Homo sapiens: one gene and its partners. The protein of the gene in region 1 purifies or fractionates together with the protein of each later gene. This does not show direct contact. Each region holds a gene or a part of one and is shown in the gene's direction. Other genes may lie near its edges.

Evidence for each region. Proteins that work in one complex are often made in the same cells at the same time.
Region 2: the proteins of SLC7A4 (region 1) and TMEM126A purify together in Homo sapiens (affinity purification with mass spectrometry; one large-scale study listed by BioGRID and IntAct). This does not show direct contact.
Region 3: the proteins of SLC7A4 (region 1) and NT5C3A purify together in Homo sapiens (affinity purification with mass spectrometry; one large-scale study listed by BioGRID and IntAct). This does not show direct contact.
Region 4: the proteins of SLC7A4 (region 1) and ABCG2 purify together in Homo sapiens (affinity purification with mass spectrometry; one large-scale study listed by BioGRID and IntAct). This does not show direct contact.

What each region holds. Positions count from the first base shown.
Region 1 is NC_000022.11:21,028,868-21,034,677, reverse strand, and holds the start of SLC7A4 (cationic amino acid transporter 4), read left to right. Parts: upstream 1-2,116; 5' UTR 2,117-2,147; exon of another isoform or gene 2,148-2,825; 5' UTR 2,826-2,865; coding exon 2,866-3,847; intron 3,848-4,326; coding exon 4,327-4,967; intron 4,968-5,233; coding exon 5,234-5,342; intron 5,343-5,447; coding exon 5,448-5,623; 3' UTR 5,624-5,810. UniProt on the Homo sapiens protein: Involved in the transport of the cationic amino acids (arginine, lysine and ornithine).
Region 2 is NC_000011.10:85,650,181-85,654,004, forward strand, and holds part of TMEM126A (transmembrane protein 126A), read left to right. Parts: intron 1-68; 5' UTR 69-75; coding exon 76-161; intron 162-3,824. UniProt on the Homo sapiens protein: Protein required for the cotranslational protein quality control in the inner membrane of the mitochondria.
Region 3 is NC_000007.14:33,028,277-33,032,562, reverse strand, and holds part of NT5C3A (cytosolic 5'-nucleotidase 3A), read left to right. Parts: intron 1-2,848; exon of another isoform or gene 2,849-2,934; intron 2,935-4,286. UniProt on the Homo sapiens protein: Nucleotidase which shows specific activity towards cytidine monophosphate (CMP) and 7-methylguanosine monophosphate (m(7)GMP). CMP seems to be the preferred substrate.
Region 4 is NC_000004.12:88,110,140-88,114,425, reverse strand, and holds part of ABCG2 (broad substrate specificity ATP-binding cassette transporter ABCG2), read left to right. Parts: intron 1-872; coding exon 873-1,123; intron 1,124-4,286.

The sequences.
Region 1 (5,810 bases):
TCTCCCTATGTTACCCAGGCAAAATACCCAAGTATTTTGGCTATTCTGGATCCCTTGCATTTCCATATGAATTTTTTGTTTTTTGTTTTTTATTTTTTTTTGAGACAGAGTCTTGCTCTGTCACCCACGCTGGAGTGCAATGGCGCCATCTCAGCTCATTGCAACCTCTGCCTCCCGGGTTCAAGCGATTCTCCTGCCTCAGCCTCCCAAGTAGCTGCGATTACAGGCACCCACCACTTATTTTAATTTATTTATTTAGTAGTTTTGGAGACAGGGTCTTGCTTTGCCACCTAGGCTGAAGTGCAGTGACAGGATCATAGCTCACTGCAGCCTCAGACTCCTGGGTTCAAGTGATCCTCTCACCTCAGCCTCCCAAAGTGATGGGATTACCGGTGTGAGCCACTGGGCCTAGCCAAATACTGTATTTTTGATCGACATTTGGTTGAAAAATATCTATGTATTAGTAAACCTGTGTTGTTCAAGAGTCCACTGTGTTTTGCTGGGGATTTCTACATCTATATTCATAAGGGATTTTGGTCTGTGGTTTTCTTTTCTTGTGATGTCTTTGTTGAGTTTAGTGTCAGGGTAATCCTGGCCTTGCAGAATGAGTTAGAAAGTTTTTGTTTCCTGGTGGTTTGTCTTCACTGCATCACTGTGGGGTTGCTCTGTGTAGCTGTCTCACTCAGTAGTGAGGGAAATATCTCTGGAAATGTACAATTTACTGCATCAGCCCTGCTTAGTCTCACATATCCGTTGTATGTTGGTGCCTGTGGCAGAGGGTGTGGTGTCACACCTTCTCCAGGTAGATAAAAAGTCAACACTCCAAAACACTGGACACCAGCAATAAGGCAGTCATTGGTAAGGCCTTTGGGGAGCTCCCATTACAAATCTGCCTAACCCTCTGGCCTGAAGTGCCTAGACTTTTGTGGTGACATTTCAGGACAAGGGACGTCTGCTCAGGCAACACAGGGATGGGGTAAGGAAGCTACCATCCCACCGGAAGTGGGAGCCATCTGAGAAGTTCCTCAAGACAATACCAGCCAAATATTAGAAGGTATTGGCATTCTGGCCGAGGCAGAATGTTCCAAATTGGCACCATCTTGTCTGGGAGTCCATCATCCTGTCACCAGCCCAATAGGCTGGATAGGCTGCAGATGCTCCTAAGATTCCATTCCACAAACCACATGTAAGCCTGAACACATGTCTAGTATAGCGTTCTGGGGAGGCCAGGAGCCATGGTTCATGAATGTAATCACAGCCTTTTGGGAGGCCAAGAGTTCGAGACCAGCCCGGGCAGCATAGTGAGACCCAGTCTCTAAAAAAATTAAAATTAAAAAATTAGCCAGGTGTATTGTTGCATAGCTGCCTGCCTGGGGCGTGGGGCACTGGAATGCAGTACTCAGGACACAGTGGCTGTCGCTGATAAACACAAGTGGGGATCTGCTATTGGGGTCCCATAGGGCCCTCCCGGCCTGCCAGAGGTGCCTAGGCTAGGAAGGGCTGCCACTGGGGTCTGAGGAGCTCTACTCCCCCACAGGAGGGCTGCAGGCTGGTCCCAGAAGCTGCTTGCTTCCTTGCAGGACGTGGTAGCTGCAGGCTCAAAACAGCCAGAATGCATTCCCTCAATTCGCAGAACTCTCTCAAAAGGCTGCAGTCTCTTCCATTGTAAGAGTAGAGGTCAGGGACCGCCCCAGGCCACTCTGCCAGACCCATGTCTTCATCTAACTCACTGTGCCTGAAGCTCACATGACGGTGCTGTGGGGCCTGTCTGGGGCCCAGCTGGGTGGGGTTCATGTACTGGGGTGAGGGATCAAGAAGGGTGTCCGCTGCAGTAGAAAGAAGGTGGGCTGCGGACTTTCAGACGTGGCCCTTAACCTCCCCGAACTGACCTAGGCTAGTCAGTCAGCCGGCGGTCTGACCTTCTCCATCTGTGACTGAGTCACAGTCACAGGGCTTCCCTAGACCCCGGTGAGCTCCGGTAACGACCTTGCGAGGTCGGGCAGAGTGGGCAGGGTGAAATATCTGGGTGTGTGGCAGCGGGTGGGGCCGCGCGGGGGGCCTGGGATGGGGGCGGGCCCTGCGCTCGGCGCCGGCGAACTGGGCGGGCTCAGTGCTCAGAGCGGAGGCAGCGGCTGCGGCAGCAGCAGGTGGGTTGCAGCAGATCCTGCGGGGACGGGGACTGGGACGGGCTCAGGCCCAAGAACAGGCGAAGGCGCAGGTGTCCGGGGACGGGGGCGCGGCGGAGCAGGCTCTAGCAGCAGCGGCGTGTCGGACATGGGGAGGTGTGCGGGCCCAGGGCGCCCCTGCATTCCGCCTGGCGCGCGGATACCCCAGCCTGGCCACGGGTGCAGGGGCGGGGGTGTATGTAGCCGCCACTGTCTGTCTGTGGCCAGGTGGCTGCCTGGGCCACACCCGCCCCGACGCAGAGCCGCGGCTCCTGTTCCGGGTCCGGCTCGACTCTGGGGAAGCCTCGGTTTCACCTGGCTCTGGGACCCCACCACTGAGCCGTTCCCAGCCTCTCACCCTGCTCCCCCTGGAGCTGCTCCCTCCCCACCCCTCAGGGCCACCGAGCGGGTGAGCAGGTGGGGCCTCACCAGGCCTCCTTTGCTGCCTGGGATGCAGACAGGGCCTCCAGGCTTCCTGTGACCTCCTGCCCACAGGTTCTGACACCTGCCCCATTCCAGCTCTCCAGCAGGCCCCTGGTGAGGGTGTCCAGGTCCCCAGGTCAGGGACAGAGAGAGGACTGGGGGTGGTCAGACCAGGAGGGATGGAAGGCTGGTCAGGCCCCGGCTACGCATCCTGTCATTCCCCTCTGGCCCTAGCAGGTTCCAGTAGCTGGCTCGGTGCTCTTCTCGGCCACCTGCCATGGCCCGGGGGCTGCCCACCATTGCTAGCCTGGCACGCTTATGCCAGAAGCTGAACCGCCTGAAGCCGCTGGAGGACTCCACCATGGAGACGTCACTGCGGCGCTGCCTGTCCACGCTGGACCTGACTCTTCTGGGCGTGGGTGGCATGGTGGGCTCGGGTCTCTACGTGCTCACAGGTGCCGTGGCCAAGGAGGTGGCTGGCCCTGCTGTGCTCTTGTCCTTCGGTGTGGCCGCTGTGGCCTCCCTGCTGGCAGCCCTATGCTATGCAGAATTTGGGGCACGTGTGCCACGCACGGGCTCTGCCTACCTGTTCACCTACGTATCCATGGGCGAGCTGTGGGCCTTCCTCATCGGCTGGAATGTTCTCCTCGAATACATCATCGGTGGCGCCGCCGTGGCCCGTGCCTGGAGTGGCTACCTGGACTCTATGTTCAGCCACAGCATCCGCAACTTCACTGAGACCCACGTGGGTTCTTGGCAGGTGCCCCTCCTGGGCCACTACCCGGACTTCCTGGCTGCTGGCATCATCCTCCTGGCCTCTGCCTTTGTCTCCTGTGGAGCCCGCGTGTCCTCCTGGCTCAATCACACCTTCTCGGCCATCAGCCTGCTTGTCATTCTCTTCATTGTCATCCTGGGCTTCATCCTGGCCCAGCCTCACAACTGGAGCGCTGACGAAGGCGGCTTTGCACCCTTCGGCTTCTCCGGCGTCATGGCCGGCACTGCCTCCTGCTTCTATGCTTTCGTGGGCTTCGACGTCATTGCCGCCTCCAGTGAGGAGGCCCAGAACCCACGGCGGTCTGTGCCTCTGGCCATCGCCATCTCGCTTGCCATTGCAGCTGGTGCCTACATCCTTGTCTCCACCGTGCTAACCCTCATGGTGCCCTGGCACAGCCTGGACCCCGACTCAGCGCTTGCAGATGCCTTCTACCAGCGGGGCTACAGGTGGGCTGGCTTCATCGTGGCAGCTGGCTCCATCTGCGGTGAGAGACTCTTCCTGGGCAGGGTGGCAGGGAAAAGAGCAAGGGGGACCTTGTCCTCAGATTCTTGGGGAATGCACCTTCAACTGGGGCTGTTTTACTAGTTGCATAATGGGGCAAGGAAAGTGCTAATTATTAGAAACTCTTCACTTCAAAAAAAGTTTCTTCAGAAACTTTGGAAGGGACCGCCCCACACATGGTCCATAGCATATTAGTTCTGGGCATGTCCTTATAGATTATTTCCTAGGCAGAGGGACTCAGCCCTCATCCGATGCTCCAGTGGGCCTGTGACCTAACCCAGATGTCCTGTTCTTGGGCAAAGCGCTGACAATCTATTACTCCTACACAAACTCATGCTTACTCTGAGAGCCCAGACAAGCTCATGCCCTTGTTCCCAAGGAGCCACCCATGCACCGACCCCCAGCAGAGGCCCCTGGTGGGCTTCTCCGCCATGCTGACCCTCCCCACTCTCTCTGCTACAGCCATGAACACCGTCCTGCTCAGCCTCCTCTTCTCCCTGCCACGCATTGTCTATGCCATGGCCGCCGATGGGCTCTTCTTCCAGGTGTTTGCCCATGTGCACCCCCGGACACAGGTGCCTGTGGCGGGCACCCTGGCGTTCGGGCTCCTCACGGCCTTCCTGGCACTGCTGCTGGACCTGGAGTCGCTGGTTCAGTTCCTGTCCCTTGGCACACTCCTGGCCTACACATTCGTGGCCACCAGTATCATTGTGCTGCGCTTCCAGAAGTCTTCCCCGCCCAGCTCCCCAGGCCCAGCCAGCCCTGGCCCCCTGACCAAGCAGCAGAGCTCCTTCTCAGACCACCTACAGCTGGTGGGCACTGTACACGCCTCCGTCCCTGAGCCAGGGGAGCTGAAGCCAGCCCTGAGGCCCTACCTGGGCTTCTTGGATGGGTACAGCCCTGGAGCAGTGGTGACTTGGGCGCTTGGCGTTATGTTGGCCTCAGCCATCACCATAGGCTGCGTGCTTGTCTTTGGGAACTCGACCCTGCACCTCCCACACTGGGGTTACATCCTGCTGCTCCTGCTCACCAGTGTCATGTTTCTGCTCAGCCTCCTTGTCCTGGGGGCTCACCAGCAACAGTATCGGGAAGACTTATTTCAGGTACCTCCCCTAGCCAACACCCACTCACACTCGGCCCAGGCAGCTGCCTCCCCTTCCCCCACTACCATCCCAGAATGAACAAGTCTCACGGGGCTGGGGAGGACCACACACCCATCCCGCACCCCTTTCTGCATGGTGAGTGAGCACATGTCTCCACAATCTCCCGTGAGGAACAAAGGCTCTATGGATTCCCGAGAAAGTGAGCCCTGGGCTGGCAGATCTTTCCTGCAGCCCGGCCCAGCCCTGCCCTGCCTCTGCCTCCTCAGATCCCCATGGTTCCCCTGATTCCAGCCCTGAGCATCGTCCTCAACATCTGCCTCATGCTGAAACTTAGCTATCTGACCTGGGTGCGCTTCTCCATCTGGCTGCTGATGGGTGAGTGGGGGCCAGGCTGGGACCGGGGTCAGGAGGAGGGCAAAGAGGACAGGAAGGGCTGGAACCTGTACCTCAGGCTCATGCCCTGCCTCCTGCCCTGTCTAGGACTTGCAGTGTATTTCGGCTATGGCATCCGGCATAGCAAGGAGAACCAGCGGGAGCTGCCAGGGCTGAACTCCACACACTACGTGGTATTCCCCAGGGGCAGCCTGGAGGAGACAGTGCAGGCTATGCAGCCCCCCAGCCAGGCACCAGCACAGGACCCTGGCCATATGGAGTAGCTGATCAGCCCACACTTGCCCCGCCCTCCCACACCTGCTTGGGAGGCCAGAGAGGCCAGACAAGCCGAGAGCCCCTTCTGTTGTGGGCAGCCTGGGTTTGCAGGCCTGCACAGGCTGGGGAGTCCTCAGGACCTTAGGACCTTCATCCAGGGGCTGGGCTTCGGGTCTTCAGGAGTGGGCCTTGGCT
Region 2 (3,824 bases), on another chromosome or scaffold:
AGTCTTCAGAAGGTTTTTAAAATTCTTTGTATAAATTCTTGAGAAATGATATCTTCATGTTTTTTAAGGCTCAAAATGGAAAATCATAAATCCAATAATAAGGAAAACATAACAATTGTTGATATATCCAGAAAAATTAACCAGCTTCCAGAAGCAGAAAGGTAAGATCCCTTCTTAATTTAAAAACACCTTTTATCAGGTGGATTTTCACCATTGATTCATTATCTCAAGTTTATCTGGTTTGAGTATAAACAACATGGAATGTGAGAAGGAAATTGCCCTTTTCTTGCCTGGATGAGAGCGTTTAACCATTTTGCTCAACATCACATAGCTAATTGTGGAAGGTGAGGCTGGAACTCATGTCTTTGGACATACCTAATTGTATAATGTTTTGAGTTTTTCCATTAGGCTTGGAGTATAGTAAAATGTAAACATTTACAGACCCATTTAAATAACAAAACTTTAACTTTTAAAATGTCTTTTTTTTCCCAGTTCATTCTGTCAGTATGCTTACCAGTCTAAGAGTACCATAGAACACACATAGCAAGATAGAGAATGTCAGAGAAATAGGATCATGGCTAAAGATCTTTAAGATATTATTAAAGAGGGCCAGGCATGGTGGCTCACGCCAGTAATCCCAGCACTTTGGGAGGCCAGGGTGGGCAGATCACCTGAGGTCAGGAGTTCAGACCAGCCTGGCCAACATGGTGAAACCTCATCTCTACTAAAAGTACAAAAATTAGCTGGGCGTGGTGGCAGGTGCCTGTAATCCCAGCTACTTGGGAGGCTGAGGCAGGAGAATTGCTTGAACCAGGGAGGCGGAGGTTGCAGTGAGCCGAGATCACACCACTACACCCCAGCCTGGGCGACAAGAGTGAGGATCCGTCTCAAAAAAAAAAAAAAAAAAAAAAGATATTAAAGAGAAAAACCAATATAGGGAACATACTAATCTTTGCCAGGCAGCTAATGTGTACTTCCACAAAATGTCTTACACTTTGTTGACAGTCAAGAAGGTCTCTCTGACTATAAAAGGATGAAAAGCAGCCACCTGGGAAGGAGAGAGGGACAGTGTCTTAAGTAGAGGGAATGGCATATGCCTAGCCACAAGATAGCCAAGGCTTGTGGTACTTGAGTAACCATTGTTACCGAAGTACTAAGGAAGTGGGAGTAAGGACCAGGAATAGTTTTGAGCAGGGGGATGATGTTAGCATTTCTAAAGAACATTCCAGCTGCTTTTTGGAAAGCAGATTTGAGGTAGGAAAGAAAGGAAACACAAATACCAGTAGAAAAAATGGCACAGTAATCCTGGTGAGTGGAGATGGTAGGGGTGGTGACAGCTGAGATGAAAAGAGGATGCATTTAAAATACATTCTGGAAGCATAATCTTGCTATCTTCAGGAATAGAAACTGAACAAATCCCCATCTTGCTGCCACTTACCATCTTAATCAGGGAGAACCCATAAATCAAGACCAGTAGTGTTCAGAACAAGGATCTCCAAGGGGAAGAAAAAAAAGGCCAGTAGTAAGAACTTGGTGAGATCTTAAAAGCTCTTTCACCCCCCCTCCCCACACTCCAACTCCACTCCCTTCTAGTTGTTTTCCTGAGGTAACGGAAAACCTTTTAAAGCAAAAAAGGAACTATGTCCATGTTTCCAGGCCAGCAAGATAGGGAAAGTGAGAAAGACTAATAAAAGAGTAGTAGGCTGGGCATGGTGGCTCACACCTGTAATCCCAGCACTTTGGGAGGCGGAGGCGGGCTGGTCACCTGAGGTCAGGAGTTTAAGACTAGCCTGGCCAACATGGCGAAACCCTATCTCTACTAAAAATACAAAAATTAGCCAGATGTGGGGGCACGTGCCTGTAGTCCTACCCACTGGAGAAGCTGAGGCACGAGAATTGTTTGAACCTGGGAGGCGGATGTTGCATGGAGCTGAGATCATGCCACTGCACTCCAGCCTGGGCGACAGAGCAAGACTGTCTCAAAAAAGAGTAGATGGTGGCAGCTTTGAAGAGAAGAAAGCAGTCTGTCACTGGGTTCTTTACCAAATTAGAAAGAATACCTGGAACTGCAAAGTAAAATTTAGTTTAGAGGCAATAAATGTTTCAATCATTGGCATCTAAACTAGGCAGATTACAGTGTCCTGTTATCTTTGCCTTGTTCCTATTTTTTCTCTTCATTCCCATTTTATTTTCTAAGTTTAAATCTTCATTTCTTCTTGGATTATTAATCAGGTATTTAATGGTTACTTGGCATGTCCTTCAGTGTATGGAGCTTTCTTAATATCAAAAACTTCATTTTCTGATCTACAGCAATACTTTCACGTACATGTTTGTCATTTGTTAAATTTGGGCTATTTCATGTCTATTTCTTGTGTATGTCTTATCAAAAAGTCATGAGTTTTTAGTTGGTATAGGTACTTTTTTGGAAAACTGGCAAGGGGCTGCTAGGTAACAATTTTGTGCTAACTTTTAATTAACTAAACATTTTGACCTTAGCTATGGGAAAAATCTGGTTGGGAGAGAGCAAAGTTTGCTATGCAGATTTCACTTGTACTACTTTTTATTTATTTGTATATGTAACATACTTGTAAACAAATGGACTTATATATAACATGTATATATGTATTTTATATATATTATATATACATACAGGCAAATTGTTTACCTGAGCATTGGGATTTAAAATGGGGATAATATACATTTCACATGATTTTTATGATGAAATATTTTAGAGGAAGTGTTCAAGTTTTTTATTCCAACCCCCACAAAAAAAAAATAGGCTTTTCACATTTACATGGTTTTTGTGGTTGGTAGGTTCTCCAGACTGTCATCACTAATTATAATCTATGTACTCCAAGTTCCTGAACTGCCACTGTCTTGTACCACCATTACCATTTTCATAGACTTCTGTTATATCTCGTTTACATCTCTTTCTTCTCCAGTAATATTTAACTATGTTAACCTTGAAGATAGAAGGTAATTTTTTGTGCCTTTAGCACTAAGTCTGCTGCATACAGTGGGGTTCTCAATGAGTGACAGGCATCATGATTGCAAAGTGTCAGATAAGAAAAGCAATACCTTATACAACGTAGGAAGCTGAGTTCCTAGAAAAGCTATTTTAAGATGAGTGTAAGCCATAGAAGTTAGAGGAGGTACTCTGTGGCTACTTTGGCTAGTTAAGAGTAATGAAAATCTTAAGACTGTATTGTAGATGGCAATGTAAGTGGTAAAAAAGCTAAGTCGTAGTCTGAAAAGTTTGGAGTCAGTATTTTCAATATTCAGCAATCATGTTAGGTATTACTTTTTCCCAAAACTAAAGAATGCATAGGACATAAGTTAAAAGTTCATACATAACCTGGCTTCAAATCCAGTTCTACCACTACCTGAAAACATCAGTTTATTTCTCATCAATGGGTTGTTATAAAGTACCTAGCATAGGGTATTGCTTAAATGTTAATACTCCCAATCCTGACACTAATGTTTCAGGGAAGAGTGAAAGAAATCACATTAACTCCACATTATTGAACATCTTCTGTGTCAGGCTGAATACATCTTTGTATCCATTGTCTTCTGGTTGTTTAAAGACTAGTGTAGAAGCCTGACATGTAAATCGGTGATTATATAAGATAGTACTGTCTTGTAATGTGTTGTGCTAGAGAGGTTAAGTATTAATTATTATGGGAGCTCAGGAGAGGCACCCACTGGCTGCTGGGAGAAGAGCAAAAACCTATATATAAAGCAATTTTTAAGATTTTGGTTCTATAAGGGATAGATGTCGTATCCAGTTAGTGTATTCCCAAAGTCCTATAACACATGTCAAGATC
Region 3 (4,286 bases), on another chromosome or scaffold:
GATCACCTGAGCCCAGGAGGGAAAGTTGCAGTGAGCCAAGATCACGCCACTGCCCTCCAGCCTGGGTGACAGAGCAAGACCCTGCCTCAAAAAATAAAAATAAAAAAACATAAAAGTAAATTTTTTTTTTTTTTTTTTTGGAGACCGAGTCTCACTCTGTCACCCAGGCTTGGAGTGCAGTGGCGAAATCCTGGCTCACTGCAACCTCCGCCTCCTGGGTTCAAGCAATTCTCTTGCCTCAGCCTCCCAAGTAACAGGGTTACAGGTGTATGCCACCATGCCCAGCTAATTTTGTATATTTAGTAGAGATGGGGTTTCACCATGTTACCCAGGCTGATCTCGAACTCCCGACCTCTGGTGATCTGCCTGCCTTGGCCTCCCAAAGTGCTGGTATTAGAGGCATGAGCCACTGTGCCTGGCCTTTTTTTGTTTGTTTTTGAGACAGAGTCTCGCTCTGTCACTTGGGCTAGAGTGTAGTGGTGCCATCTCGGCTCACTGCAACCTCTGCCTCCCGGGTTCAAGCGATTCTCCTGTCTCACCCTCCAGAGTAGCTGGGATTACAGGCATGTGCTACCATGCCCAGCTAATTTTTGTATTTTTAATAGAGACAGGGTTTCACTATGTTGGCCAGGCTGGTCTTGAACTCCTGACCTTAGGTGATCCACTGGCCTTGGCCTCCCTAAGTGCTGGGATTCCAGGCGTCAGCCACCGTGCCCGGCCAAAAATAAATTTTAAAAATAATAAATAAATGAAACTCATATAGATGAACATACATATTTATAAATTAAAAGTACAAGTAATTTTTTTAGTCTTGGTTAAAATATGAATTGTTTTCTCTGTACATTGTGGATTGTATAACCCTTAGTTTATTTTGTTTTTTATTTTTAGTTTAAGAATAATAATTCATTATTTTAAATATAATGTATTTATGTGTGTTTTTTAATACAAAATCTTTTTATTTATTTATTTTTTTTTTGAGACAGGGTCTCACTGTGTCACCCAGGCTGGAGTGCAGTGGCATGATGTCAGCTCACTGCAACCTCTGCCTCCCAGGCTCAGGCAATCCTCCCACCTTAGCCTCCGAGTATCTGGGACTACAGATGTGCACCACCATGCCCGGCTAATTTTTGTATTGTTTGTAGAGACAGGGTTTTGCCACGTTGCCCAGCCTGGTCTCGAGCTGCTGAGCCCAAGTGATCCTCCTGCCTCGGCCTCCTAAAGTGCTGGGATTACAGGCATGAGCCACCATGCCCGGCCGTGTTTTCTTTTTTAATCAAAATTTAATATAATTTGAAATCTAGTTCAAACAGAATTAAACTTTGAAGTTGTCATAATCTCATCCTGGAAATTAGGATTATCCCTAGTCTGGAATATTATCATTGGATTGATGATACCAAGCCACACCCAGAAATTTGGTAACTGTACTATGGAGCTTCTCTCTTTTTTTTTTTTTTTGTTTTTTTTTGAGGCAGAGTCTCGCTGTCGCCCAGGCTGGAGTGCAGTGGCGCGATCTCGGCTCACTGCAGGCTCCGCCCCCCGGGGTTCATGCCATTCTCCTGCCTCAGCCTCCAGAGTAGCTGGGCCTACAGGCGCCCGCCACCTCGCCTGGCTAATTTTTTGTATTTTTAGTAGAGACAGGGTTTCACCGTGTTAGCCAGGATGGTCTCGATCTCCTGACCTCGTGATCCGCCCGCCTCAGCCTCCCAAAGTGCTGGGATTACAGGCCTGAGCCACCACGCCTGGCCAGAGCTTCACATTTTTATCTTATCCCAGTGTATCCACAAGATCATATCAAATCTAATATTAAACAATTGAGTTGTGGATAAAATGGCATAACTTTGAAATCCATTTCATCTCTATAAATATATTAAGTATTGGTCAAAATAAGTGAATTTTAGGTCTTTCTTAATCATTTTTGGTGTTGATTCAGATTGGCATCAATCAACCAACATACCCTGATTCTTTTCAGGAAGGCATTGCTCCCTCCCCAACATTTTACGCTGCGGCTTTACCATAAAATGAATTTGTTCTCTTTTTATCACAAATGATGGAAATTTTTAGCTTCTTATTTATTTTTCATAAAATTTTATCATAATCAAATTGAAAATTTTTCAGACAATTCAAAATACCTTGCCCTTCAAATTTGAAGTATCATTATTTATATGCCACCAAACCAAGTCTGTGTTTTTATAAGAGGGATATAGACAGAAGGACTTTGTGGAGGTAACAAAAGTATGTGATCTCATGCAACAGTTGGGGCATGTTCAACAACAACCACCACAACAAAAAGTATGTGATGTATTTCATCATACTTCTACAGTGTGCTTATATTATGATACTCTTTGACATATTCCATACAGGAGTCTTTGATTCTCTTTCTTAGGCTATATTGTAAAGTATTTGAGTAAAATACCCCATATCTCAAGTTCTTGTGAAGTATTTCTCATATAGATCAGTGACATTAATTGTGTATTGCAGGAGAGGAGTATAGTATACTATATAACCCAAGACAGATAGAATGGTCATTTTTATATTTCTTATACCTATTTCATCATTATTTTACTCCCGTGCCATTTGTGTATTCACTACTTATGAATACACAATGAAAATGAATGGTTGTATGTTGCACAGGAGCCACCAATGCCTTTAGCTACTGGTTCTCTTTCATCCATTGTGATTTAAAGTAAACCAGTATTGGCTGGGCATGGTGGCTTACACCTGTAATCCCAGCACTTTGGGAGGCTGAAGCGGGGAGATCACTTGAGCCCAGGAGTTTGAGACCAGCCTGGGAAACACAGCAAGACCTTATCTCTATAAAAATAAAATAAACCAATCTTACATTTGTTAGTGTAGCAGAAACCAGCCTTCTTCGAAGTGGTCTTGGTGTGATTCTCCTATCCGTTATCAAAAACTTGAAGCTGTGATTTGCCTGAGGTAAGACATCTTGGGTACACTGAAATCAAATATTTAATTTTTTTGGTGAAAAAATAGTCTATGATATATATCCTGTGTTGCTTTCACCATAATGGATTGGTTATTGAATCAAACATATGCTGATTGCTGTGCATCTGCCAGTTAAGGCTGAGGTAAGAACAGAAATTAGTTGTCAAGAGATAAACTTACTAGCTGAGGTATTTGTAAGGGAGTTACAGAAGTGATATTCCAAAACAGCAGTGGTCCCTAAAACTCAGCAGAAAAGCAGAGTAAATACTACTCATCATCATATCCCTAGCATTTAGCAAGAGTGTGTGGCACAAAGTAGACACATGGTAAATATTGGTTAGGCGAGTGAATGGGTTAATGTATGAAAAAAAAAAATAGGAACCAGTGCCTATCTGCCTTTCCATCTATTGAAAAATCACTATAAAATACATAGATAACCTTTAAGCCATTGAAACTCATCCAGTTGAGTTAAAAGGATTACTACATCAAGGTTAGTTGCATTGCAGGTCATCCTACTTAAATATGGCTTTTTAAAATTAAATATATTGTAGGTGGTAGATCTTTCATCCATGGAGAAAATTTTAATGTTAGCATTTGTCTTTTCTCTACACTTTCTTTTTTTTTTCAAGCTCTGCCTCCCGGGTTTACGCCATTCTCCTGCCTCAGCCTCCCAACTAGCTGGGACTACAGGCACCCGCCACCACGCCCAGCTAATTTTTTATGTTTTCAGTAGAGACAGTATTTCACCATGTTAGCCAGGATGGTCTCGATCTCCTGACCTCGTGATCTGCCCACCTCGACCTCCTGAAGTGCTGGGATTACAGGCGTGAGCCACTGTGCCCGGCCTCTTTCCTCTACACTTTCGTTATCATCTTCCAGTCTTTGGAAGACAGTCCATCCTTTTTCTGATTTTTCTACTCTTGCCCATTATGTAGGAACAACACGGCATCTGATAGATTTACGTGGTGAGATTCTCTTGTAGCAAAGATAGAAGGTCCAGGGAATTTTTGTAACCATGTCCATGACACACATGAACTATGTTAATATTACTAATAACATACCCAGAATAAAAACATATAAATAAAGATTATCCAGTACAAACCAGTATAGAACTTGGATTTGAGGTACTATTATTGCCTATGCTGTATAACTGACTATAAAATGAGGCATAATTTTCTCCTTCTAGTTGTATTGTACATGTGCTATGAGAGCTTGTACTGATTTTTCCTCTAATCAGTTTCATTCTATTTGTGATAAAATAGCTAGTAACAAGAAATAATACTTAAGATTAAATTGTTGAGCAACCCTAAAGTCTTCATAACTCTGTAGTAGCAGCCTACACC
Region 4 (4,286 bases), on another chromosome or scaffold:
CAAACTCCTGACCTCAAGTGATCCTCCCGCCTTGGCCTCCCAAAGTGTTGGGATTACAGGTGTGAGCCACCGCCCCTGGCCACGACCAGAATTTTATATTAAGAATTAGAACTATATGGTAAGAAGTCTATTTTAAAAGAATTAAGGTCAAATAGAAAACGTCAGTTTGTTTGCTATATTCATAAGACTATGGCAATAGACAGGCTATTTCTCTGTAGTTTTCTTTTTCTTTCTTTTTCTCTTTTTAAATATACATTTTAATTTATTACTTACTTTATTTATTTTTATAGAGACAGGGTCTCGTTTCGTTGCTCAGGCTGGTCTTGAATTCCTGGCCTCGCATGATCCTCCTGCCTCTGCCCTGCAAAATACTGGGATTACAGGAGTGAGCCACTGTGCCTGGCCTGTTATACTTTTCTAATGACAGAGCTAATAATTTTTTATTTCTATTTTTTCTTTTTTGAGATGGAGTCTTGCTCTCTTGCACAGGCTGGAGTGCAGTGGTGTGATCTCAGCTCACTGCAACCTCCACCTCCCTGGTTCAAGCGATTCTCTTGCCTCAGCCTCCTGAGTGGCTGGGATTACAGGCACGCACCACCACGCCAGGCTAATTTTTTTTGTATTTTCAGTAGAGACAGGGTTTCACCATGTTGGTCAGGCTGGTCTCGAACTCCTGACCTCGTAATCCACCCGCCTCAGCCTCCCAAAGTGCTGAGATTACAGTCATGAGCCGCCGTGCCTGGCCTATTTTTTCTTTCTAAAGCTTTAGAATGAAGGTGTTAGGGAAGCATCCAAGAAAGGGTTCACAGAAAAAATGGGCTAAATTTGTTGTTATCTTGTTTGTGTTTCCTTTTTATCCACTGATTGCAAAGCCACAGAGATCATAGAGCCTTCCAAGCAGGATAAGCCACTCATAGAAAAATTAGCGGAGATTTATGTCAACTCCTCCTTCTACAAAGAGACAAAAGCTGAATTACATCAACTTTCCGGGGGTGAGAAGAAGAAGAAGATCACAGTCTTCAAGGAGATCAGCTACACCACCTCCTTCTGTCATCAACTCAGATGGGTTTCCAAGCGTTCATTCAAAAACTTGCTGGGTAATCCCCAGGCCTCTATAGCTCAGGTAACCAGCAGATTCTTTTGAAATACTCAAATGGGAACAATGTGGTTCTGTTATCATCTGCTTCAGGATATGTTTATCTTCTACCCACCCTTCCAATTATTTGTTATCTTCACTCCACCTGGGATATAGAACCAGTCAGCAGAACAAATAAAGGACAATTAAGTTTTACTTTTGGAAAGCTTCCCTTTTTTTGAGACAGAGTCTCACTCTGTTGCCCAGGCTGGAGTGTGGTGGCATGAACTCAGCTCACTGCAGCCCTGACCTCCCTGGGCTCAAGTGATCCTCACACCTCAGCCTCTTGAATAGCTGAGACTACAGGCGTGTCCCACCACGTCCAGCTAATTTTTGTGTTTTGTGTAGAGATGGGGTTTCGCTGTGTTGCCCAGGCTGGTCTTGAACTCGTGGGTTCAAGCGATTCTCCTGCCTCAGTCTCCCAGAGTGCTAGGATTACAGGTGTGAGCCACCACATCTGGCCAGGTTCTTTTTTTTAGTGGTTTCTTAGACTACCTAACTCAGAATTTTTGTTGATTTAGACAAGCTGTAATGAATAATCTGAGTAGAAAAATTTTTTTTTTGGGAAATTGTGAAAGAAGTGTCAGCCAGTTTTGGGGTTTTCTGGTAGCTGTTCACTTTTGTTCACTGATTCATTCAACTTGTTCTTATAGGGCCTGTGCTGTGCTTTAGGGATGTGAATTCAGTAGTGAACAAAATGGGCAAAAATAAAACTCTGCTCATGGAGCTAATTTTTTGAGGAAGACAGTTATGATAAATAATAAAGAAATTAAATAGATAGCATGTTAGATGGTAGAAGAAACTATGGGGAAAGTTTAAGCAGAGAAGGGGTGGAGAAAGGGGAGGAAGAGAGAGAAGTAGGGAGAAGAAGGTTGATTTGCAGTTGGAATCAGGTGATCAGGGAAACCTTCACCTACTGTCACTGAATACACCTGAAAGGGAGTATGTGCTGGCCACTCCAAGGGAAGAGCCTGTGTGCAAAGTGCTGTTCCTTGTCATTTACCTTCCTTAGACAGTTTACAGGTGAAACAAATGTAGTAAGCAAATTTGAGTTCACAGAACAAGGCTATTCATTGTTAGATTAACTTTCTGTTAATCAAAATGAGATAATGTTTCTTTGTTCCTTGGTTGGCTCTGTGATAGTTGGTGATTATTACTCCTTGTGGTTTTTGTTATTCTTTTCTTTACACATTTTTTTTTTTTTAGAGACTGGGTCTCACTCTGTCACTCATACTGGAGTGCAGTGGTGCAATCATAGCTCACTGCAACCCCAAACTCTTGGCTCAAGCGATCCTCACACTTCAGCCTCCCGAGTAGCTGTGACTACAGCCGTGCACCACAACACCTGGCTGATTTTTTAATTTTTTGTAGAAACAGGGTCTCACTATGTTGTCCTGGTCTGGATCTCCTGGGCTCAAGCGATCCTCCTGCCTTGGCCTCCCAAAGTGCTGGGATCACAGGTGTGAGCCACCATGCCTGGCCTTTTCTGTTATTCTTAACCCCTCTGTCACCCAAAACATTAGTACTCCCAGTTCATTGGTCCATTCTTCAAAGAAGTCAATTTAGCTGGTTATTTTGGGGCTGTTATTTTTATTAACAATATTGAGTTTCTGTTGAGTACTAAAAGATGGCACATTGTTGGCTCTAGTAAAATATTACTGACGTTTAAACTTGTGCATCATAATTTCTATACTTAAGTATATATAAAATATATCTAAGAGCTTGTATCCCTAGTTAAGCCATACTGCTAATTATGTATATATATGTATATATGTATAGCCACATATATGTATGTATAGCCATACTGCTAGTTAAGTATATATATAAATTTATCTAAGAGCTTGTATCCCTAGTTGAACCATATTGCTAATTTCTCCAAATGTTTTTGGTACGTATAATTTGGTGTTTCTGTCAGAACACTGGCACTTTTATATACTATCAATTAAAGGCAAAATTTTATTCTTTGAGCATAGATTTGATATCATTTGGAAATCAGTCTGGTAGGATCAACCTGGGTTACTTATTGTCAACAGTGAAATAATGTAATGAATTGCTTTTTTAGTGTGATGTATGCATTAGATTTTTCTTACTTGGAAAATAACTTGAATTATCTTGCTTCAAAAAATGGTTTATAAATGTCTTGTCCAAATCGCCTATGTGGCAATACTGGAGAGGGCATAATTAGAACACAGAGCTGTTTTTCACACACTGAGATTCTGCATGTTTTGATACTGGGCTTCCTTCCAATGCTAACACCTGGCCTAGTGCCTCTAGGTTTAGCTTCCCTGCCTCATCAGTGAACTCACTTTCACAAAAGGAATTCCAGCCATGTTCAGAGCAGTGGCAGTCTCTTAGATTAAGAATAGGACCTTGTATCTCCCTGAGCATCTGCTTAGCAGGACAAGTTTTGTTTCGATTTGTGAAAAACTGGAATATTAGCTTAGGGCAGGAGTAGGCAATATATATTTTTTTTTTTTGTAAAGGATCAGGTAGTAAATATTTTAGGCTTTGCAGATCAGGTGGTGTTTGTCTCAGGTAGTCAGCTCTACCGTTTTAGTGTGAAAGCAGCCAAGCTCATAACATGAATAAATGAACATGGCAGTATTCCAATAATAAACGAAAGGCTGGCTAGATGCAGTGGTTCCTGCCTATAACCCCAGCACTTTGGGAGACCAAGGCAGAAGGATGCTTGAGGCCAAGAGTGTGAGAACAGCTTGGGCAATAAAGCAAGACCCCCTTTTTTTTTCTGAGACAGAGTCATGCTCTGTCGCCCAGGCTGGAGTGCAGTGGTGCTGTGTCGGCTCACTGTAACCTCCGCCTCCCGGGTTCAAGCAATTCTCCTGCCTCAGCCTCCCGAGTAGCTGGGACTACGGGTGCCCGCCACCATGCCCAGCTAATTTTTGTATTTTTAGTATAGACAGGGTCGCACCATGTTGGCCAGGCTGGCTTCGAACTCCTGACCTCAGGTGGGTCCACCCGCTTCAGTCCCCCACAGTGCTGGGATTACAGATGTGAGCCACTGTGCCTGGCCAAGACCCTATCTTAAAAAAAAAGGTAACTTTCATTTTATTCCAATGAAACATTATACATTGGCACTGAAATTTGAATTTTATATAAATTTTATATTGTGAGAAATATTATTATTCTTGAC